Linked DNA regions of Homo sapiens: regions 1 and 2 are each linked to region 3. The links come from fine-mapping of genetic effects on gene expression. A gene starts in region 3. Each other region holds a variant in brackets. All regions are shown on one strand. Distances are between the middles of the regions. Region 1 overlaps LOC105377923 (a long non-coding RNA gene). Region 2 has its middle 180 kb from the start of LINC02836. Region 3 holds the start of PRDM1 (PR/SET domain 1).

Region 1 (8,184 bases), 210 kb after region 3:
CTCCCCATAAATTCTTATGTTGAACTCTTAATCCCAAGGTGATGGTATTAGGAGTTAGGGCCTTTGGGAGGTGATTAGGACATAGGAGTGCAGGCCTCATGAATGGGATTAGTGCCCTTATGAAAGAAACCCAAGAGAGAGACTCACCCCTTCTACCACGTGAGGATACAATGAAAAGGCAACATCTATGAGGCAGAAAGTGGGCTCTCACCAGACACTGAATCTGCTGGCGTCTTGATCTTTTACCCCCCAGTCTCCAGAACTGTAAGAAATACATTTCTATGGTTTCTAAGCCACCCAGTCTATGGTATTTTGTTACAGCAGCCTGAATGGAGTAGACCAGAAGTTTTCATCTTATACAAGTTGTTTTATTGGTTCAAATAGAGAACCTATTTCTTTGGGAGTTTATTTATTAGTTCTAACATTTATTTGTGATATAGGATCAGGAGCTTCAAAGACTTTTTTGCCTATGATGATGACTCACATGAAAAGGCTCACTATCAGAAAGGCATATGAATGGTTTTGCTGAATTTCATCACTTTTTCTCTACAGATTAGCTTACAACCAGTGGCGAGGTACCCAGACAACTCACCTTGCACGTTCAGGTCACTGGTTCCCCGCTGGCCTGGATAAAAGAATTTGGCTGGGTTAGTAACATCTCGGTCTGTGACTCAGGAAGAGCTGACACCAAGTGAAGGCAGGTGACCCACACAACAACCAGATTTAAGCCTCAAGGCCCACTGCCACCAAGCGTTAACCAAGGGAACCAATTGACTGCCGACTCTGGATAGGTAGGGTAAAAACTGGAAGAAAACGAGGCTAGGTTAATCAGTTTCCTCTGAGAACATGAACCCTGTCCTTTCTGAAAGATTTTTAAGAACTACAATTGAGATTGTGGACAGTCTGCAGTGGAAGTTACATTTGACCACCTCTAGACTTGAGGCTGTTATTTATATGAAAGTCTATTTTAATCAAAGGAAATCCTGTTTCACCAGCAGCACTGGCAGCCCTGAGACGCACGGTCTCAGGAGTGTTGTGAGGATACAGGCTGTCTTTAATCTCAGAATAAAAATATTTGATGTTTACAAGGTGTATTAGTGTAATTGGAATGTGTCTGCCTGTCTGCCGGCCTTCCTTCCATGGTGGGACCACGTAATTAAAGAGCATTGCGTTCATGTGGCTGCCTGTTTATCCTTTCATAGCCTCTCGGTAAGTAGTCACGGTCAAGACCGTTACCCTGGGCTCTTAGAGAGCTCATCCAGGCAGAGACAGCTGCAGCCAGAACAAAGGGGAGGCTGCACTCTGCTTGCAATCCTTCTGAGGGCTCTAGGGCAAAGTGGGATGAGACAAGTTTAACTTGGTGGATAAGAGACGCCTGGTATCCCAAGAAACTCTCAGTGCATGCATGGGATTATGCCTTGAAAAATGTGTGTAGGTGTATATATTAGGTTGGTGCAAAAGTAATTGCACAGCCTTTGCCATTACTTTGAATGGCAAAACTGCAATTAATTTTGCACCAACCATATATACACACACACACACATATGTGTATATACACCTACACACATTAAGGTCTATCTATCTTTTTTGTTTGTATCTATCTCTATCTATATGTATATCTTTCTCTGTCTTCAAAAAGTGATTTTTTTTTCTTCAAGTAAAAGTCAGAAAAGGAGATACTCACCCTTATCTCTTCGTGTATACCTAATTCCACGTTATGTATTCAAGTTCTATTCCTAATGCCTCAGGACTTTGCTAGTTGGAGCCTTGTGGGTCACATGAGCACTAAGAACTCAGGTTTCCTAAGTGAGATTCTACATTTATTCCTATCTCCTGTAATCTTGGAACTTCTAAGAGAGCCTGGCTGAGAGTAGGTGCTCAATAAGTATGTATTAAATGAATGAATGAATCTCCCTGTAGTGTTCTAATGAGTGAATGAATCTCCCTGTAGAGTCCTCCTCTTGAATTAGTCTGGAAGTCCCCAGGCAGGGTGTCTGCCATGTGCTCAAGTCGGTCTATTAACCACAGCCACCTTGTGACCTCTGGCCCGTTCTGATTCTCCCACCCTGGCTCTTCTTGTTGCTTGAGGGTGTCTGGTGGCTGTGGCTGTTGTTGCCCTCCCTGAGAACCTGACCATCTGGGCTGCATCACCATGCTTGCTGTCCTTCTAGCCCTGGAGCTGTATGGCCTACAGATTCATGGGCCCTCTCAACTCTCACTGATTGCTTCCCTCGTAGAAGCCCAAAAAGTCTGTGGAGCTGGACAAGGAAATGTCTCCACATCTTTCTTCCCCTCCATGCCCTTGATTCTCTCACTCAAGACTGAAGGATTCCTGGCACAAAAATGTCTCTCTTTCTTGAGCTTTAAAGCAAAAATGTCCTTATCTCAGCATTTTTCAACCCTAGTTAGATAAATTATATACCCAGACCTCACCCCTAGATACTTTGATGCAGTGAGTCAGAAGCAGAGTCTGGCATTCGTATTTTTACAAGGCTCGTAGGTGATTCTGGGGTACCGACAATTGAAATTTTGGACAGTCTGCGGTGGAAGTCAAATCTGTGTTGTGAAGCGCACTGTCACAGGTGATCAACTCTTACAAACAGACACCTGGGGACATTGAGTTGGGCTCAGCAATGATACTCTGCTAGAAAATGCAATCTTTAGAAAGGCAAGGATAGGCTAGGCACAGTGGCTCACACCTGTAATCCCAGCACTTTGGGAGGCCAAGGCGGGCAAATCACTTGAGGTTAGAAGTTCAAGACCAGCCTGGCCAACATGGTGAAACCCTGTCTCTACTAAAAATACAAGAAATTAGCCGGGTATGCTGGCACGCACCTGTAATCCCAGCTACTTGGGAGGCTGAGGCAGGAAAATCACTTGAACCCAGGAGGCAGAGGTTGTAATGAGCTGAGATTGCACTACTGCACTCCAGCCTGGGCAACAGAGCAAGACCCTATCTCAAAAAAAAAAAAAAAAAGGAAGGCAAGAATAATTAATATATTTTAATTTGCTTGAACAGCACTATATCTAGATGAAGATATGATTAATTCTTTTTTGTTTGTCATGTTAACCTAAGGGTTGAAATTGCAGCAGAAGTACTGAGCACTGTCACTGGAAGCATTCCAAGAGATGTTGAGTGGTCACCCATAATAGATGCTGCAGAAGGGATATCTGCATATGGCTGCACTGACTCTAAGATATGGTGATTCAGTTCAGTGATATAACACCTATTTACTGAAACCCTGTTGTGTATTTTGGGGCATACAATGAATAATTAGATATGCACTCTGCCCCCAGAGAGCATAGAATCTATTCTCCATTGATTCATTCATTCACTGTGCCAGGCAGTGAGTGGTTAACTCTTTACTGAGTTACTTCCTCAGCGGGAGGCATCTGAACAAGCAAACATACCACTTACCTGAAACAACTGTCAGGTTGGGTAGAGAACGTAAGTGTCTTATGAGAGTTCTAGGTAGAGTGCTCTGGGACTTCAAAGAAAAAAAGTCATGCCTATGTAGTTGGGTTTGCCCTTTAAGACAAAAGTAGTAAAATTCAAATGCTAAATAAAATGCTCAGCTCCACTAATGGAATTTTTGCGCATGAAAAAAAGCAAGCTATAAAGGTTAAGATAACCAGACTGGCTGTATTTCTGTCCCTGCTGCTGTGGGGTTATTAACATCATTCTGTGCGAGTGAGTCCACCGGAGAGATGGGGTAGCAACTCTTTGTTCTTCCTTTTTTGTATCATTTCAGCCCTGAGAACAGCTCTTTACAGATGGTTTATAGAACTGAAATGAATTGAAATAACTTGTCAGCTGGTCTGTACCAACCCTAATAAAAGACTCAGAGGAACAAGCTACTGACAATTAGACAGTGTTTTCTATTTGAGAGTTGTTTCTAACAACCACAAATCTGAAGTGTGTCAAAGGAACAATTTTGTGATTCATTTGGGTAATGCTATCTTTCCTGGAATGAAAGGATTTCTTTTCATATAGAAATTGAAAAAGAAGTATGCCCTTATTTTGAACTTATAGTTGACACAGCTTTGTAAACAAGAACAGTTCCAAGTCGTGGAGATATTTTTCCAGTCTGCCGTCTTGTGATGAAGTATAGTGCAGGAAATAAACAGTCTTAAGAATTGGCCAAAAAAATGTTTCCTTGGGGGCAAATCACCCTTGCCCCAGATACCTACTTATCTCTGCTCACACTTCTTAGGATGCACTTGGATTGGCCACACCCATCCAGTACACATGGAACTTCATTGCTTTTATTGATTGATTGCTGTTTAAAGCTTTATTCCATTATTTCATATATGTATCAGACATGTAGCAAATGTATGTGAAAACAAGGCAGAATATGTTATACCTGTTATTCTAACTCGATTGTAAATGTTTGAGAGCAAGAACATTTCTCTTCAAATTTAGTTGTTTTTTTTTTTTAGGTACTCTTTGTTCCCCACTGTGTAGCACGAAGTCCAGCATCTCACGTTTATTATTTTGGAATAAATATTAATTATTATCTTGAGCAAATGGCTCTTTACAGTATCTGAATGTTCAGTACCATAGTCAGAAAACTCTGAGAACTTACATTTGCAGATGGTATTTGACATAACTGAAAATGTTTAAGAAACAAAAAACAAAAAGCCTCAAATATAAGCAATTGTGGATACTTATGATTCTCTTCTTAGTTATGCTTTTTTCCTTTGCATTTTTTTCCCTAAGGATGTATGATCACCGTTTGTTATTACTATGAGGTTTAGGGCATTATCCATTATTAATTCTTTTGAGATTTACTTGCTGCTTTTTCCTTGAAAGAGAGTTCTGGATTTTTGATACTTCCCTTTAGAAGTGAGGTTTCTTTGAATAATTGGGGCCTTAAGAAAAGTTACAACACACTGTCTTCAATCCATCCACCAGACTTTGCACGCAAACACCCTATTGACGTCAGCAGAACTTGGGTGAAGTTCTTTTTTTTTTTCTTTTTTTTTTTTTGCCTATCACTGGGAACTGGGGAGTGAGGGTGGTAGGGTGAC[G/A]TGCATGGGACTGGGTCTGGGTGCTAAGAATGAGTTGACTATGATGAAATTTGGAATGCTACAGTTTTCTAATAAAATTGAGTCTTGTGCTGTTTTCCCATTGGATAAGAAAAAAATATAGTCGGAGTGACATTTATTCCAGGAACTTTAAAAAATTTTCCATTATGTTTGATAGACTGTTTTATGAGGACTGGCCAGTGTTAAAAGATTTGGCATTTGATTTTGGAAAAGAATAACTCCGAATTGAATTTATTAGACTCTCTGAGTCTAGTCTATAAGTAGAGACCATGTGCCTTCTTATGAGCTGATGCTTCAACCCAGAAGATGTCACGTTCATAAGCATATGCATTTAAAATTGATGTCCCATGAGTTTCAGAAAAATCTATGGACCCAAACATTTTTGAGATACAAAACAATTCATTATTTGCATTCAGCATTTCCTAATCTTCTACCTTTCTTATTTAGGACTTTAATTCAGTGCTAAAACTTCCTATCCGACTACACTTGAGCAAATATCATCTTTCTTGAACTGTAACTAAAATTGTTCGGCTTGATTAGCAAATTTCTCTGTGTGTCTGTGTACCTAGGCTTGTATAGATATATCAAAGGTTTTAAATCTAGCTGGAGAGATAAGATAAGAACACAAAGCATTTATGAGAACGAATACCCTTTGAGGTGGTTTGAAATCTCAGTTTAATTGCAGTTTACAGACGAGAGGAGTGGTGATTTTCCGTAGAGGAAAGATTCATGGAAGAGATGGGACTTTTAGTGGATTTTAAAGATTTAGCATCATATTTATAAAATATCAAAAAGGAAAGAGGATGGGAAATTTTTAAATTAATTTTGGGCTTTTTGGGGTCAGCCATGGAGTCATGTGTAGACAGGGTTTCAAGTTGAGCTATGTCTTCTTAGATGATAGACACGTGCCTGTGAATTCTTATTAGACTGTTCCTTTTATTTATAGCTCCCATCTGATTGTGCTCATCGGGTTGTTACTAATACTGATAAAATTTGTGGGTACAGAAACATTCTGAAAAGAACCTTTTATAATTTTTTTTTGTTTGTTTTTTAGCGAACTGGAAGGGGAAACTGAACAAAAAAAGAGTAACCAAATACTGTGAAACCCCCAGATCTCTTGATCTTAGGCCAGGTGTCTATTGCCAATCTGATTAATTCTAATTATATTCAGCTTCATTTAAATTAAGTAACATGAAGGCTTTCTTACCCTTGTTCATTCAATTCAAGTATAGTTTTATATAGTTGACTAATCAACTGATGATTATTTATTGAGTAGCTATTATGTGCTTGGAATTTTCTTATATATCTATAGTTTAAGTTCTGCCTCACAGAGCTTAAAATCTTAGCAGTAAAAAATATAAAGCATATTGAAGTGTCAGTTAATAGTGTGATGCCGTAGGGGAGTGTCAGTAGTAGAAGTCCAGGAAAGAAAGACGTAAAAGACACCCAGGATAATTGGCGATGAAGAAAGTTTGTAAGGAGAAGAAAAAGCACTGTAGGCGATTAAAACTGTAGAGGAAAAGCTCTGAGGCAGGAGAGTGGAATAGAGAATGTGAAGGGATTAGAACTGATAAAGTGTTTTCCAAACAATTCTGACTTTCCTTGTTGTTTGAGTGTTCAACAAGGAGGTCTTGAAATAGTTTTATTTAACATTGTTTTGCAAAGTTTCCCTCTCTCTCTCTCTCCTTTCACCCACACACCCAGACATGCAGATGTACATATATAAATATAAAACATTAATTCTCTAGGTTATCTTTGTAGTTGACAATAGAGAATACATATCCTTACTGTAATTGGCAGAAAACATCTGTGATAGTTAACATTCTTAATTTTTAAAGATTTCAACTGTGAGGCTCTATTGGTACATAATCAAATTTTTTATTATTTTTAGAAATCTTAATAAATATTCTAAATCAGTGAGTTCCAAGGTTAAAAGTTTCATAATTTTTTTGAGAAAAGTCGAAGCAATCAAGACTTTTCTTTTCCTTCAGTAGACCATTTGGAAGTAAAAGTTAAAAACTAAGTATGAGAAATGCAGAAGTTCTAAAGGGAACTTGAAAATTTATTTTTAGACTATTAAACAGACACACTTTTCTTGGCTGGCCCAAGATCCATTGAGATAGTGCACATCCAGAGAAACTATAACCAGATCTAAATGATAGTTTCCAAATAACCATATAAAATATTTGCAGATTTATCCTCTTGGGTGAAAAGGCAGCCATTTCTCTTAAAACATGTTAAGAGAAAAGGGCTTTTCAAATGTTGATGTGCATAAGGGTCAGTTGGGTAACAATGCAGGTTCTGACTCAGCAGGTCTGAGGCGGGACCTGGACTCTGCATTTCTGAGAAGCTGCCGGTGATGCTGCAGGTGCTGGAATGTGAGCTACTCTTTGAATACGAAGGTCCCAGAGAACATCAAAATAACCTCTGGTGCTATCGATTTATGAGTACATTGACATTTATTTTATTATTTTTATTGGAAAAATAAGTGCAGTGTCAGAGTGGAGAGGAACTTTTACACCTTTAGCATGGCCTGGCAATGTTGGCTATTCCCTAGATTACTACTCTGTAGAAAGCTGCACGTGGGCAGGGACTGAGCTACTTCTGTTCTTTACTGTATCCTAATGGCTACCACAGAATCAGTACTCAGTCAATGTACTGAGTCGAGTAAATGAATGAATTTAGTGTTGGCCCGCAAATGCCATTTAGCTGTATGCTTGTCCTTGTTACATAAGCAGAAGAATGTGAAAAAGTGCAACAGTGTTCTAGTCTAAAAAAAGGTCACTCTGGCCTTAAGAATTTATACTAACAAATTACAACTCAAACCTTGGTATTCTTGAATGCACAGCACAACAAAACCACTAACACGGAAGAGGCTGAGGAGAAGAAAAGAATCAGGGGTAAACACTACCTTTGTGAAGGACTCTTTTTAAGACAAAGTTCTTCCCACATACTTAAGGTCTCCCAAGCACTTTCCTTTCTGGTCCTTCTGTCCCATCCTGACCTAGAGCTTCCTCCACCCCTTTTTACTCTAATCTCTGATGCTCTCAGGTAGCCACTTGGCTGTGTTCACAGCCCTTTCTCCTGCTTGCCTTGCCTGTGTGTCCCCTGAGTTCTCCCCTGGGGCATTTCTGA
Region 2 (8,184 bases), 270 kb after region 3:
AAATATTTCTTTTTGTTTGATTGAACTTTAATGACTGCTTTAATCCTTAGAAAAGATTGGAATCTCCAAAATTGAGTGATAAGGTTTAACAGGGCAGAATCTTTTTTTTCCCCTGAAGAAATGCTGACAATTTTTCTAGTTTCAGCATATTCCTTGCCAAGGTTCCTGTTTACTGCCACATCTGAGACAAAATGGCAACACTTCCTGAAGTTCCATACTGGGAGTAGAGATCTTGAACATGTTTTCCTTCTGGCAACATTTTCTTCAATTGCTTTTTGTAACGCCTGCTCTTTTGATTTCTCTCAACCTCTCTAGTCTTTCTCTTCATTCTTCTTTGAGAGGACAATCTCCGTCATATATCTGACGATGTGTATTTCCCACAGAGTTTGTCTCAGACACTCTTCTCACTCTATACATTCTCCATGGGTAATTTTATCTGAACCTATAGCTTCAATTATTATCTATATGCCTATGATTATCAATTTTGTATGTCCAGCGCAGATCTCTCTCTACACTCCTGAACAACTCTGCTATTGCTTACCGAAAGTTTCCAGTTGTAAATATGAAATGAACCCCAAACATGCCCATTCAAAACAGGCCTCACAGATTTCCCACACCTACCTTAACCTCACCCTACCTGCTCCTCTGCTTTCTATATCTGTGAGCAGTTATCGAGTTTCCCACACCAAACACTAAGCAATCATCCTTGACCTTCTCATACTCCATGTCACCAAACCTTCTATGTTGCTATTGCTTAAGTATCTTCCAAAACCTATTTACTTCTCTCCACCTTCCCCTAACCTAACCTACCTTCATGTCTGGCCTGGAAAACTACAATGGTCACTTCATTTTAGCTTCCTTCCAGTTTCCCACACAGCAGCCAGAGTGATCTCACTGTTGGAACAATAAACAAAATCTTTCATGTGGGTGCATCTTACTTCCCCTACCACCTCTTATGCCATTCCATCCTCATTCTGAGCTTCAGCTCCACGGGTCTGCTTTCAGTTCTTTAAAATATTATTATCCTTCTGCTACAGGGCTTTTGCACATGCTTATTTCTCTAAGTGGACAATGCTTTCTCCTTTTTAAAAATCTTGTCTGCAGACAGATCGGCTGAAATATCAGTTCCCTAGGGGAGCATCCCCAGCTCTCCCATTTGGTCAAGTTTTTTTCATGACACATCCGTGTAGCAACTTGTTTCTTTCCTTCAAAGCTCTCGATTTGGATTTTCATAGTATTTGTCTGCATGTGATTTTTTTAAAGCTGAAAATGTATCTCCTTCATTTGATTGTATACTCCGTAGTACTGGTTCAGTATTCGCTGAGATAGATGTACAGGATTCATGTATACACAGAGTTTTGTACCTAGTAGGTCCTTGATAAACGTTTAGAAATACAATTAGTTTGCGGTGAGTTTTGCAGTGTAAAATGATCATAATTGAGGGAAGGAACAATGGTCACTGAGCAAGCTGGGATTTCTTTTTCCATTCAGTGCCCAAAGGTCACTCTTATATTTACTGCTCCATGGAAGGCAAGGAAGTGGTATCTCTTCCTGGAGCTCCAGCAAATAGAAACATGCCATGAATGTTGGCAGGAATGGAGACTTTAGGGAAGAGGGATTGTGGTAGAAAATGTCCTATCCTTCTAGCACCTGGTCCTTAGTAGTGATGCTCAATCCCTCCCATCAATACTTTCTAAGCTTTAGCAAGCCTAAGAATCAACGGGAGGACTTGTTAAAACTCAGATACCTGTGGCCCACCCCCAGAGTTTCTGATTCAGTAGTTTGGGGGTAGGGCCTGAGACTCTGCATTTCTAACAAGTTCCCAGGGGATGCTTCTGCTGCTGCTGCTATGGGACAACACTTGGGAAACTGCTACCCTGACTAATTCTAACATGAAACTCAGTCCCAAATTAGTTCCCCATGATGGAAGACCTCCTGTGCCAGCAACTGCTTATTGACTCTAATATAAAGTTTATATGGTCAAAGAGGTAGTCATTGACTGATTTTCATTATGTTACCAGTACTAATACCTCTGTGGGATATTCCAAATAAGTTAACATGTTATTGGTCGCTGAGTTTCTAAGTGTTTTGAGAAATACAGCATAGTAATTATAGTGTGTGAAAAAAAGGAAGAAACCCAGGTGATCTTCTGTTTGGTACAAACAGCAGATGAGTAATATGTACAGCACTTTTTGGCAGGGGCAGGCTACCCACTATGGAAGCTGCAGCAACCCAGCTGGGAGAATGAGGGATGGGGGAAGGCCTAGAGGTGAGCTCAGGTAAAAGCAGCCATTTGTGGGTGAAATAAAATTTAGTCTAGTAGTATCTTAGTTTGGAAGTCAAAAGATCTGAAAGAACATGAGGTACGAGGATGACAGTGTGATTGTGTGTACAAAGCATTGGCTAAAGAATGCTTTGAAGAAGAGCCCTGGCTCCAGTCTGCTTTGGTAATGTACTCAACAACTCTGGGCTTCAATTCCTTCAACCCATCAAAATGGGGTTAGTCTAGATCAAGGGTCAGTGAATTTTTTCTATACATGGCCAGACAGAAAATATTTTAGGATTTGTGGGCCATACCCTCTCTGATGCAGCAACTGAACTCTGCCATTGTAGTATCAAAATAGCCAAAGATACTATGTAAATGAATGGGCTTAGCTATGTCCCAATAAAACTTCATTTACAGAAACAGGTGGTGGACAGAACTTGGCCCAGCATCTTAAATCAGCAGTCCCCAACCTTTTTGGCACCAGGGACGGGTTTCCTGGAAGAAGAGTTTTTCCACAGGGGAGGTTGAGGGGGGTGATTTAGGGAATGAAACCGTTCCACCTCAGATCATCAGGCGTTAGTTAGATTCTCATAAGGAGTGTGCAATGTGGATCCCTCATATGCGTAGTTCACAATAGGGTTTGCGCTCCTATGAGAATCTAATGCCGCTGCTGATCTGATAGGAGGCAGAGCCCAGGCAGTACTGCTTCCTCACCCGCCGCCCACCCGTGTGGCCCAGTTTCTAAGAGGCCATGGACCAGTACTCCTATAAGTAACAACAACAACAAAATTTAGCATGTATGCTTAATGGATGTATACTAATTTATAAATATGCATCTGTAAAGATCTAATATATTATGTACAGTACAAAACACACCCCTGAAACAGAAGTTTAAAAGAAATATGTTAAAATAAAGAAACAAGTGATCCAATATTTTCCCTAAATTCTACTGGATCTTCTTATGTGGAGGCCACTCATCTTGATAGTTTCAAGGGCTGTTTGACGTTTTAATGTCCTATTGTTATATGTGTGGCAAACCACCCACACTGTACATCTGCCAGGTGATTTTTGGCTGAATCAACTAGAGCGTTAACTCCGGGTAATCTGTACTAACAGGGGGAAGAAGAGAGGCAGGCAACTAAAAATACAAGAGCCAGCTTAATGTGATTTTGGAGCAAGTCCCAGTGCTCAGCGGCTGGGAGCCC[C/T]TCTGGGCGTGGGTACTCGCCACGGCCGTGGCTGCAGTGGGCTGGGAAATAGAGAGGGTAGTTTGAGTGGCTGTGGATACGTGAGTATTTACATGAAGAAAATTGGTCATGAACTTTTAGTTGTGAAAGGAGCCTTCAAAATCTGTTAGTTCACCCGCTTCGTGTTTCAGATGAAATCTTTGTATCTAGAAAAACTTCTGTGATAGCTAGTGAGAGGCAAAGCTGGTCTCACAACTCAGGACTTGAAACATTCTCACCTAAGTCCTCAACAGGAAAAAATATTTTTCTTTGTATTTCTTTAGTGCTTTTCATTTTAGAACAAATCTGTTTTCAAAGCATTGTGAAATTTTGCTACAATAGCAAAAATTGTTCATCTCCATGTGTAAGTGAACATTTAAATGACTGTACAGTCCCATGCACATGAGCGTTCCTGGAAATGGGGAAGGAGTACATGTTTTGGGGCTTCTTTTCTGGTCTCTCACGTTACTTTAAACTTGGAGCATGTGGGCACCTGGGGCCTGAAGAAGATACATCACTATACTGGCAGAATGCTCTAAGAGTACGAACAGTCGTCAGCCTACTGTGAATGTAGTAGTGTTTGCAATGGAAAAGGAATGGATCCTGAATTCAATATTTTCCATATAATTTTATGCAAATGCTTTTATGAATTCCCCTCTTTGAAGGAAGAAGGAAGAGGGAGATACTGCCAGTGGGGAAAGTTTATTAGCAGTCTTCCAAAGCTACCCACCCAATTGGCGCTGGTTCATGATACATTAGAAAGAGGAATTTGGAGATTTATTCTATGGTGAAGGGATTTGAACTCAGAATAATCTGGGTCCCCAAGTGGATCTAGTGCCTGGTTCCTGTCCTCAGGGGATTCGAAGAGGATTTTGAGTATGGTCACTAAGGTGGACGCTGAAGGATGCTGCAGGGAGTTTGTGTGTTTTGAGTAGGAATAGACACAGTGCTGTGGTGTTTCAGTAGATCGTGGGCTCTGCCAAGGACTGCACAAGTGGGTCCTGGACTGGGAGAGGCCAGGATGGCTGTGTTGCACAAGGCGAGAGAGTGAGCAGTCTGACTCCCTGGTGAGTTACGTGCAGCTTGTGCAGGAAAATCTGGTGTCCTGATTCTGCTGGTGTTTCTGCACAAATTCATTTGCCAGTCTCTTCCTTTTTGGATATGCTTCTGGGCATTACCCTTTCAGAAAGGTTTTAGGATGGAAGTCCCCAAGGGTCTGTTCCCTTCCTCTAAGTTAATATTTCCATGGTAAGAAGTACAAAAATTTTCTGTGTAGGTGGATACCAGAAGGGTTTGTCTTTTTTCTCTCTGCCCTCCCCTCACTCCCTGAAAATGATGACAAACATGCTCTCTCTGCAAGATTTTCTGGCACCAAAACACTTGCCCATGCCATCTGATCCTGCTGTCTTGTTGGTTCTGTGTTTGCAAATCTAGCAAGCTAAACCCACTGAATTGCTGATCTAGAGAAGTTTTTAAAGTGCCCATCTTTCATTCCCTTTCTGTTACTTCTTATAGAGATTTATTTCACTCATTATTCTTTCCTGTACCTTGGTGGCTAGTTTTGCTTTGAGTGCAAATTAGAGAGTATTTTCCCCCTCTGGCTTCCATTTTTAATCACTCAATGAGAGCATATGTCAGAAATATTCCGTTTTTAAACTTCACCAAAGAAGCAGTGATTTTGGATGCATGTAAAAGAGGAGAAAAAAGTAAGAATAATCAGAAGATTCTTTACAATGTGAGAATTTGATTAGATATAGTTTTGTCCTCACTTTCCCTTTGAAAGGCTAAAACTTTGCTGCAATTTTAAGATTATTTACCCCTTTTCATTTTTTTTCTTTAATGTCTAGGCTAAAATTTCCTCTTGCTCTCATATTTGAATATGGATTCCTACTTTAGGAAAATCACAGCTGACAAAATTGTCTCAAATGGCATGATAATCTGGTTCTCTGCAATTTTCCAAATGCAAAAGTTAGCAGGTGGAAATCATTGAAATGCACCCAGGAGAGCCCACTGCCCCTCTTGGAAGACTGTGGCTTTATGTGTTCAAGGCTGGTAAAAGGTTGGCCAGATTTGAACCTCAATGGTAAGTGTGAGAGGTAAACATCCTCCTGAAGCCAAACTGAAGAGTCATGCTAGGGAGGTGGGGAGGGGAGGGTTTTCTAGGAAGTGCTCCACACAGAGCTGATAGCATTTTCCAGGACAGAAAGTAAACAGGGGTTTTGTGTTGGTCTTTGAATACAGAACTGGTAAAAGCCACAAACAGAAAAACAAAAACTCTCCCAGATGAAGGTTCTAGTAAAAGACTTGTTATCTACCTCCATGCAAAAAAGAAAAAAACCCAAAAAACCCAATGAGAGTAAATAGCACCTTCAATGACTCTTCAAACGCTTCATTGCACACCTGAGTTGGTTGATTGAGTTTCCTTAGCAGGTCTGAGGGACATTGTTCCCATTCTCAGGGGATGACCTAAGACCCTCAAGGTAATTGAGCGAATTGTCTGCTCCTGAATGGAAGCCTTCCTGTCCATGAAAGTTGCCCAAAAGCTAATCACAGGTGATGTATGGGGACCGCATTCCTTCTAAATGCACCTTTCTTTTTAAGAGGGTGTTTGTACCTTTGGCTGGAAAAGAATGCTACCTCCTACCCCTACTTCCAGACTATTCTGTACAGCTCAAAGAAACTTCATCTCTTCAAGTCCTCACCACGCTGAAGGGGACTTGGCAGCTTTCTGTGCACAAGTGAATTTTTGTCATATTTATCCAAGTATGTCAGGTGTAACTTGTCATCTTCCAAAACAGAGATGTAACTTGGACATTTAATTCTTACATTTAACGTTGTGGAGGATTGAAGATATGGTTAAATGACCAGGGTCCTCATTCATCGTTTCTGTCTCAGGATGATCACTGGTCTAATGGGATTCCTTTCTTTTTGGAAGGGATCCACTTCTATTGTGACTCCCTGAGCAAGAGATGCATCATGTATCTTGTGTTTTTTCCAACGTCCTCACTGTTTCTGTCAGGAGAAGTCTCACACATCTTTCTAGGTCCGTTTAAATACTCCCTCCTCTACAGTAGGTTTGGAAGAACACTATCATCATATTTTTCTTAAGCGTCTTGTATCTCCTCTATTAGATGTCAGGAACCTGGAATGCCAGGACCAAGGCTTTTTATCGTTTTTGCACTTATCTCTCCTACCTACACCCCAGATAAGATATGATAATTAGTGCTTAGTTAAAGCTAATATTTGTAAAACACTTCACCTGTTACAAAGTGCTTTCACAGAGATTCTCCTACCTAGTAATATGAGTTGAATTGAAATTAACTGAAGTAACTGAATCACTCAATCCCATTAGGGAGTGGAGGCCTAGGCAGAGGAGGAGAAAAAGAAATGGGACTAGGGAAGGCAAGATAAATGCGATGAAAACACATACAATAGGGAGGGGCAGAGTGCCACCAACAGCTATTTCCAGGTTATACTGGCCCCACTAGATGGCTCGTTCCTGCTACTCCAGGTGGACTCGTTCTCAGCTTCATACCAAGAACTCCAGCCTTAAAGGCAGAGTTGGCTTCTGCAAAACTGGAGAGATGGACTGCAGAAAAAGAGAAGTTTTTTTTTTTTCCCTGATAAGAAGGATGCCACCAGGAAGAATGCACATCATGGCTACAATCTTGTGGTTTGTTGTGGTTGTTGTTTTTCTCCTTCTGCTGAGGGAGTAAGCAGGAATGGGGTTCAGCTAAGCCCCATGAAAGGCAAGAGATTTTCCTTTCTGCCAGGGAGGCCCAGGAGAGGCAGCAGAGCCGGGGAGGACTGGCAGGTCCAAGGTGTTCTTGAGGTCCAAAGGAATTGTGACGCTCTGGATGAGAGCGGAAGGAAATAGCAGTGACTGGAAAGAACTTTCTTAAATCAAAAAAAGAAAAACCAGACTTCAGTTCAGTAGTGGTTGGTCAGAGAGAGCAAGATGGTTTACTTGTGATTTTTTATAGATCTCCAAAAATTTACTCTGAATTATATCTCAAGCCCCTAAACTTTAGGAAGTATTTTTCTATTACTTTAATAGCCATGTTTTTAATATTAAACATGGACACATGTGTTTTATGTTTCTATAGGAAAAGGATAATTTAATAGGTCTTTTTCTATTCCTGCTTCTCCCTGTACCTACAGTTGAAGAGTTTGACTGTATGGTTGACTTATCACAAGCAGATACCAGGATGCCAAGTAGGGTTCTGAGGAAGAACCCATTAACTTTGATCTGACTGTCCTTGCCCAAAATAAGCTTGCTAACATAATACAAATGTCTTGGCTCCTCATACCCAACGCCACTTTTCGCACATGGGCTATGTTATTCATTTTAGTTCTGTAACATTTTTTAAAAATTTTTATTTATATTTTTATTTTGGGGGTCCATGTGCAGGATGTGCAGGTTTGTTACATAGGTCAATGTGCGCCATGGTGGTTTGCTGCACCCATCAACCCATCGCCTAGGTATTAAGCCCAACATGCATTAGCTATTTTTCCTGAAGCTCACCCTCCCTCAACCCCACACCCCATGTGTGTTGTTCCTCTCCCTGTGTCCATGTGTTCTCATTGTTCAGCTCCCACCTATAAGTGAGAACATGTGGTATTTGGTTTTCTGTTCCTGCATTAATTTACTAATGATAATGGCTTCCAGCTCCATCCGTGTCCCTACAAAGGACA
Region 3 (8,184 bases):
AAAGAGACAAAGCATTTCCTAGTCTCCCGGATTCCTTCAAATACTGTTCCTTAGGGAAGGGGGAAAGTGATTTGACACGGCTGTAAGGAATAGTCCCAGTAGCAAATTCTGGATTTCTACGGCCAACCATCCCCTTTCCCTACTTTCTGAAGGAAGTAATAGAATTGACAGTGCTCTGTGCTAATGGTGGTATGGGAAGTCTGCTGAGGGGTCCTTTCATTCAACTCAACCCAGTAGTAGACTAGTAAGTGCAACTACAGTAAGCCAAATTCTGAAAACAAGAGGTGGTTCTGCAAGTTATTTCACAGCTAAACATCACGCCTAGCTATAATCTTTATATTAAAGGTAAACACAAATCAGTTGCTCATTCCAAGTTTGGGTTTTCATCCCCTTTGAAACAACAAAGAGTGTACCCACTTCAGAGGCCAGTAAGGAATTGGCCTGCCAGCCCAGCCCCAGCAAAGGAGCTGCTGCAGATAAACAGTGGTTAGCTCTGAAGTCATCCAGACAGAGGACACTTTTACATGACCCCCTTTCTCGGCTTATACCATCACTTCACTTCATAAACACGTCAAAGTTTTGAGGATAGTTTTAGAAACCCAGCTAATAAAGCTGGCTTGTTAAAAAGAGTAAAGCCAACTAATTACCAAAGACAGACAAAAGAAATATTAAAACTTTTTTTTCCAAGAAAAAGTTTTCTCCCTTAAGAGATATTGTACAACAGGGACACTAGGGCCAGTGGGCCCAGAGCTTTCTTGAAGTTCACTGACAATTTCACCCACCCTATGCTGCAAGTTGCTTTTCTAAGACATGCCAATTTGCCAAAATATTTAACTGTTTACTAATTAGTGAGGAACAGTTGAAGGCTGGAAGAAATGAGAAGGAAATGGTTTAGGGAAAGAGAAAGCAATGCAAGAATTGAATAGAGCAATCAATTATTTACTGATACTTACAGATTCTCAGAGGTTTTCAGAGATATACAAGGCCTCAAGGGCAAGTAGGGAGATTTGGCACCAGGTCCCCAATCTTCTTGTCAATAAACCAGAGGCTTACCTCTTCACTGTTGGTGGCATACTTGAAAAGCAGATTCCTTGGTAAGGATGCCTCCGCCTGAACCGAAGTACCGCCATCAGCACCAGAATCCCAGGGGTGGTCGTTCACAATGTATGTACACTTCTCTTCAAACTCAGCCTCTGTCCACAGAGTCATATCCGCATCCTCCATGTCCATTTTCATGGTCCCCTTGGTCCCCTCTGCCAATCCCTGAAACCTCACAGTGCTGGAGTTACACTTGGGGGCAGCCTGGAAGAGAAAGGAAAGGCCTTTAATCCCCATTGTCCCGCCGTTCCTGTGGCTCCTTCTGAGAGGCTATGACTAATACAGTAGTCTGAAGACTTTAAAAGCAGATGCAGAGTGCTTGGTACAGTTGAGAAAGAGCCAAGAAGCCGTATAAAGTAAACTGCCTTGAAAAGAAGCAAGGTTTTTAAATGCTACTCTTAGTTAAAAAAAAAAAAAAAAAAAAGAATGTGGCAACCTCACTGTGGGGAAAAGGAAAAAAAAAAAAAGAATCACCTCTGAACAATCCCTGGCTTTACCTCTCATGGCAGAAAAATGTTCTGGGCACACAGTCCAGTGTCCCAGAATGCCTGGGGTCATGGCCGCCAGACCCTCGGCACTGTGGAAAAGCTGCCTCAGAAAAGTGTCACAAACAAGGAGAGGAAGAGGAAGGAGCTCTGTCTGCCTCTGAATGAAGCTAAAAATGGAAAGCGCGTGTGGTGCAGGAGCGGAACCCAGCCTGCCTTTTCCAAATGGGGAAGACCGAACTTTCCCACCAGCTCCCAACGCAAAACAACTTTCAAAACAACTGCCTCCTCCCTCTGCTGCGAGCTCTCTTTCATCCTCTCACATGGAAGACTGAAAAGGGTTGCATCCTGCCAGCATCACTGAGCTACGGCCTCTTAGAAATCACTTGGACCACAGGAAAAGAGGAGGAAAAATGGGTGAAGGGGAAAACAGCCTGCAGTGTCTTCTGACTTGCAAGCATCTCATACCAAATTGAAAAGGCAAAAACAAAACATAAAACCGTTTAATAAAATTCCCTGGAGAGAATTCCTTTAGGAGTCCTCAGCTACAAATAGCACTTTCCATTTAAATCTGAAAGTGTATGAATTCCCAGAAGTCACTGATGTACTACAGTTTACTGTAACTAAAGTTATAACAAATTTAGAAGACTTGGAGGACAAGCTCTGCTTCCACTTGTACATTGATGAGGATATTCCCCCAAAATCCTCCCTCACACTCAGAAAAAAACTGTTTTCCAAAGGCAAAAAAAGGTAAACAACTTCTGTAAGGGTTTTCTCATATAGACATGTTTGATAAAAATGAGGAATATGGGTATCATTTCCATGTAAGAATGTGTGTTTGTTCAAATGTAAACATAACATTCTGTGGAAGTCCTTCAAGGAGGTTTTTACATTCTTCCACTTCTCTAAATAGGATGCTCTTAAAAAAAAAAAAGTTGGATGCAAAGTTGTTTTTCCCTCAGTTATGATTTAAGCAAACCTGCTTATTTTTATTTAGTTCCAACATGTAGAGTCATGACGCCAAACACATGTTAAAAATAAAATAAAATAGAAAACTTCAGCCAACCCGGAATAGTTTGACGAGTGTGAGCTGGAACCACTACTGAAATTTCAATGAATTGGCAATTATGTCTAGAACTGAAAGGGTTAATGATTCATAAGGAAAGTCTCACAAATGTTTGACAGCACTAAGTGCACTAAAGCAGAAGCATGTTTCTACTGCGACATTAGCCAAAAAAAATTAATAATAATAACAATAAAGGAAAAGAAAATAAAGTTTTCAGATCAATTTCAGAATTAAAAAAAAAAAATTCAAGTTCCTTACCAAGGTCGTACCCACACGTTTTTCCAAGCAAATATCCAACATCTGAGAAAAGTCTCGTTCATCTCTACCCAGTCCACATTCTCCCCGCGTCCCCCGCCAGGCTGAGCCGCACAGACGCGCACCTCGGCGGTCCCTCCTCGCTTCGTCCGGCCGCCCGGGCGCCCGCGTCCCAGCTCCGGGCGGACAGGTGCCGCGGTCGCTGCTCTTGCCTCTCCGCAACACTGGAGGGCCGAGTGTCACGGCAGCACTTTGTCTGTGTTAACCGTCTGGCTTCCCCTCCCTGCTTAAGATTTCCTTAGCCACTCGGCTGCGCGAAGTGGGGGCGTGGCCAACGTGGCCAACACCACCTGGCCGAGCCCAGGGCTTTCCCCCAGATTGCTAGCACAGCCGCCGAGAGCTTCCTCTCTTCGCATGTGTATTTCAACATTGACTTGGAATCTTCTTACTTCCCTTTGAAGGCACTTAACCTCAACGCTTACTTGGGCTCTATTGTATTCTAAACACTCCAGATCGCCCTCCTTCCTGGCGCGGCAGAATTAGGGGGCGCACGTTCCTTAAATTAAGGAAACTTAAAATTTACCTACACAGTTTCTGATTTCTCAGCTCAAATCCCCAGGTACAAAAGACACAAATCTTACTTCAAAAGAGCAAGTTAAATTGTTTTTGCAGCTAGTGTAATACAGTGGAGCTGTCTGGTCCTCAAGCTGTTGTGTATGTAACGCACGTTTCCCCGCCCCCCGCCCCAAAAGTTGTAACATTCCGTTTCTCCTGCTAACGTTCAAACTTGGCAGAACTAACTTTCCTCTTTTAACTATTTAGTAAATAGGGAAATAGGCAAAAGTTATAATTCTACAGATTGTTTGTTTTCCTTTCCTCTCCTCCCAGAACCCACAGGCTGACTTCCCAGGAGTGTAAGTAAAATGTAGAGCATTAGTCGTTTCACAGTTCAGAGGAATATTGAACTGATCACTGCAAGTGGAAAGCGGTCGGAGGCAGTAATTAGTGGGGCTTATTCTGAGCCCCGGCCAGCTTTTCCTCCAGCCCAGTCAGTCCTCTGTTGAAGGAAGGACATCCTGTGATGATGGCATACAATGTCCTGTTTGTTTATTATTAAGAGCGTGGACCTTGCATTCCTGCTTCTCATTACAAAACAAACCAGATGCTTTACTTCCTTCAATGGTCTTGTGCCTTCAGCAAGGAATCCTTTAATTCAGAGAAACAATGTTTATAGCAAACACCCCATTTCAATTATTATTTAGATCATTGAAATCCAGGTCTTCCATTTTTCCTGCTTGCCTTACCATAGGTAGGTTTTTTTAAAATCATTTCTCCTTCGACCTGCAATGTCTTTTCTAACATTTTAAATACACGTGTGCACACACATCCACCCACACACACACCCACATACACACACCCAGTTCCAACCTAATGATACCAACTTAGTCATACAATGAAATGGACATCTGAGTATTTGTTTACAGGAAGAAATGAAACAAAGCAAAACAAAAGCCCAACTCAATCCTAAAAAATATGTCTGTTTATCTTTAAAATTTCTTTTCTCACTTTTAGAAAACTTTTCTAGAATTTTTTTTAGGGGAGAGGGGGAGAGGCAAAAGATTATTTGCCAGGAAATGGTGTCTAAAGTCTTGCTGCAATCTCTCTCTCAGTACAGAACAATTAAATTCCCACTAGGGGACATGATTAGCACACACTCGCTGCTTGCTGCGTGGCCCACCTGTGATTGCATGTTATGCCAGAGGGGACGCTAGCACCAAGAGGAAGCAGGACTTTTAGAAGGCAGATCTGCTGGGGGTGGAAAACTGAATGAACAATTCCTAAGAGTCCTCAGAAAGCTCCAAGCTGATAATTAAACAAGAGAAATCCAGCCTGCTCAAGAGGGTTTATTAACTGATGCTGAGTCAGCACCACAATGGACAGAAAAACAATGTAGTCATACTGAAGGCTGGCCTGCTGTTCAAACAGTCTCACTTGCAGATGTTAAAGAGTATTTCACTTCCCTTTTAGAATCAAACTCTGTTCTTAGGCCACATACACCATCATGCAACTGCTGGTGAGTCAACCATGATAGAGTAAGGGAATAGGCAAAAAGTTTGATATTTGAGGTGGGAAGAAGGCTATTTTAAGCCAAATATTTGCTTTAATGACTGGAAGATGCCAGTGAATCAACTCACTGTTAATTAATATCAGCCTGCACTCACCTTCAGAGGTGGTGAAATGGGCTTGAGTCTAGGGAGGACGCAAACTTCAAATACCAGTGTGGGGCTTAGCCAGGCAACCCTAAAATTAGTTCCAGGTGTCCCAGCTGAGCTGGACAAGGCCACGGGTAGAACTTTAAGGAAAGTAAATTTTCAGACACAGAGTGTTGGAATGTAAAGTCCTTCACATGTTTGCTTCTTGTCTCAAAGTGATTGGGAAAAAAAAAACCTCCAAACCAACTTTTGACTATGATTATAGTAGTCAATGATGGATATCATCATTTAAAATGAAAGCTACCAAAAAGGAAGAAGAAATAAAAGAAAGGAAGCTTGCTCCATAATAGGAAAAAACATGTCCATATTGTAATATTTAGGTATTGTCCAGCACAAAACCATTAAGGGGGAATAAAAGGGACTGACCTCTGAACTTCACTCGGTCCTCCCAGAGGGCCTGAGCAGTGCACCTTTTTACTGCTGACTAAAGCTGGGAGACCCTGGCAGCAGTACAGCTGTGCAGAGAGAGCTATCAGAGGCTGCCACTGTCTGGAATCTTATGTCTCAAAGGGTTTGTTTCTAAGTAATAACTTGGTGCATTTTTAGTCACTATATTATTTCCCCCCAAGTTAGAACACCGAAAAGAACCTCAGTTATCTTTATTAATCAGCATTTCTCAGGCAGAGCTCTCACATTAAAAGTGTTCACAATGGCAGCAAATCATGAATGAGCCAAATAGTTCTGTTCTCAGAAATTCTCATCTATTCCCGTGGATGGCATCATCACAACAGTTCCATCAGCCAATTTTAATTCGGTTTCAGCTACTGGGCCAGTTTTTTTCCTCTCCCAGTTCCTGGGTGGATTGGGAATTGCAATGTTGGTGGCCAGATGACTCTATAGGGAAAGGACTATTGTAGAATGAAGGGAAATTGAGCACCAAATCTGGAGACCTGAACTCCACTTGGGGAAAAAAAATTTTTTTTTTCGAAAGGAACTTTTTTTTCCTAAGGTAAAAAAAAGGGATGAAATGTACCCAAGATGAAACATGTTTTCATTTTCTCATTCAACTCCTGCCATACCCAAACAAGGTCAATGACAGGCTAACCACATCAAGAGAATAACCCCCCCACCCTCTTCTTCCTACTCCCTACCACCCACCCACCCTCACCCCCCACACCCATTTCCCGCTTCCTGTAAGTTAGGCATCTTCATGCTGGTAAACATTTGGGGACCAACTGTAAGCCTGAGCCTGAGAGAGGGGCACTGAGGCTTTGAAGCCCTCCCACATGTCTCAAAGCCAGGCTGAGAACTAGAGGGACACTTGGTTTTTAAACTTTAACAGCCTTTTCAACTCAAATCACTGGGCTTGGCCTTCTGGCTGCCTTCCTTTTTAAAAGCCGGACAAGAAGAGCGAGTATGTGTGTATGAGTGAGAGAGAATATATGTATGACACATGCTATGTTACAATGCAGCCTGTGTGTGTCATTGGTGTGATATGTGTACGATATGTTTCGATGATGAGTTGAATCAATTTAAAAATAGCACAAGCTTCCTTCTCATGACACAGCTCACCTCCCAAAAACTTTTGACAAACATATTCAGGGCCTAAACATTGGGACGGTGACCTTCAGGGGCTGTTGGATGTTTTGGAATGAGGTCAGTGTTTTGACTTCCTACATAAGGGAAACAAAAATTAAGTAAATTCAAGAACACAAGTAGAGCTCCCTTCCCACCCTAGGAATGAAGATGTAAGTGTTCTCCAGAGGACTTTATAAAACCCACAGGATGTCCAAGGTCTCAGAGTATTTATAGAACCACCTGTATCATTACATCTAAGTATTAATATCTTTTTTAGCCCTCCCTTCAGAAAGACAGTTGTATTCTCATCTAATCATTTATATATGATTTTAAAATTATTTTTTAAACTATTCCTTTAGTTCAGCATCTACCAACTTAATAAATGATAATAGCAATACTAATCATTTCCAGATGACTTGTGGGGAAACCAAGGTTTGGGGTTTCCAAAATTTGCTTTCCCTTCTAATTATATTTTTATCATAGTGAATATTCAGACAGAAGAATTTTAATTTCTGAGAAGTCTGTGGGAAAGAACAGGAGAAGGAAGATTATTTCAGAACTCAGAAGACACTTCCTAACCTTACAGCTGGTGGGAAAAAAGGAATAATCCTAAAATTAAACTAACAGAAGGCAAAACCTGAACTGTTAACAAGGGAGAAAAAGAGCAATAGGAAAGGTGTCCACTCTGAAACTCATCTCTTGTCTTTATTTGGAGAACCGGAAGAGTAGCTTCCACACAAATGAGAGAGCAAGACTGTGGGTCAAATGTTTGCTTCTCTCACCTTTCAGTGGGAGGAGAAGCCATTCTGGAAGAGGGGAGGACTCAAGGTGGAAATAAAGGGAAGGTCGCCAAGAATAAGATTAGGGAGGACCAGTTGGCTTAAAAATGAAGGTGAAAGGCTTCTATGGAGGATGAGCAGGAACAGCAGCAGAAGACCCAGTGCAGGGAGGAGCAGTCCCCTTGGAAGAGGAAAAGGGACCCTACAGTTGTACCTGCCACCGTGTGCTTCCCTGAAATCACAGAATATTAACCAAAGGACACAGGTGATTTTATTTAAAATGGGACTGACGATTTCTTCTCATCCTTTCTAAGGGAAGAACAAGACTGTAGAGGCTTGACTTTCTTCACGCCAAGGTAAGTTAGGATAGAAGAGACAGAATCATAAAGGTTAATAGTGAAATCATTTGACCACCCCCAGCCCCCAACTCCCATTCTGCTCCAAAGGGGATTTAGTATCCAATCTAAGTCGAAGACCATATATCCCCTTCTACACTTCATTTTCCTGCTGAGGAAACTGAGGACCAGAGGTCAGGAAGCAGAAAGGGCATCTCTCCCAGACTCTTTTTTGGTAACTGGATCTTAACATAGAACTGTGAACCTGGGAAATGCCAGCCCACAGGCAGGGCTGCAGCTCAGGGAGCAAAATCAGAACTTGGTTCTCAGATTTCCAGCCAAGCTCAGGGTTCTGTAATGGATCCTAAGCACTTA

The links. PIP is the estimated chance that this variant, and not a neighbour inherited with it, causes the effect.
Region 1: its variant is fine-mapped to the expression of PRDM1 in tibial nerve (GTEx, PIP 0.95).
Region 2: its variant is fine-mapped to the expression of PRDM1 in cerebellum (GTEx, PIP above 0.99).

What each region holds. Positions count from the first base shown.
Region 1 is chr6:105,869,233-105,877,416 of GRCh38, reverse strand. The region is part of intron 2 of LOC105377923 (a long non-coding RNA gene); the gene reads left to right. Among named protein-coding and RNA genes, the nearest start is that of PRDM1, 210 kb to the left of the region's middle. RefSeq lists an enhancer at 7,092-7,593. The variant G/A (reference allele first, on the strand shown) is at 5,032.
Region 2 is chr6:105,812,718-105,820,901 of GRCh38, reverse strand. No RefSeq gene overlaps it. Among named protein-coding and RNA genes, the nearest start is that of LINC02836, 180 kb to the right of the region's middle. The variant C/T (reference allele first, on the strand shown) is at 3,472.
Region 3 is chr6:106,081,319-106,089,502 of GRCh38, reverse strand. PRDM1 (PR/SET domain 1) reads right to left here and starts at 3,167. Exons shown (of 7, transcript NM_001198.4): 1 at 2,908-3,167; 2 at 1,054-1,302. The coding sequence starts at 2,949. RefSeq lists enhancers at 2,820-3,539, 4,717-4,786.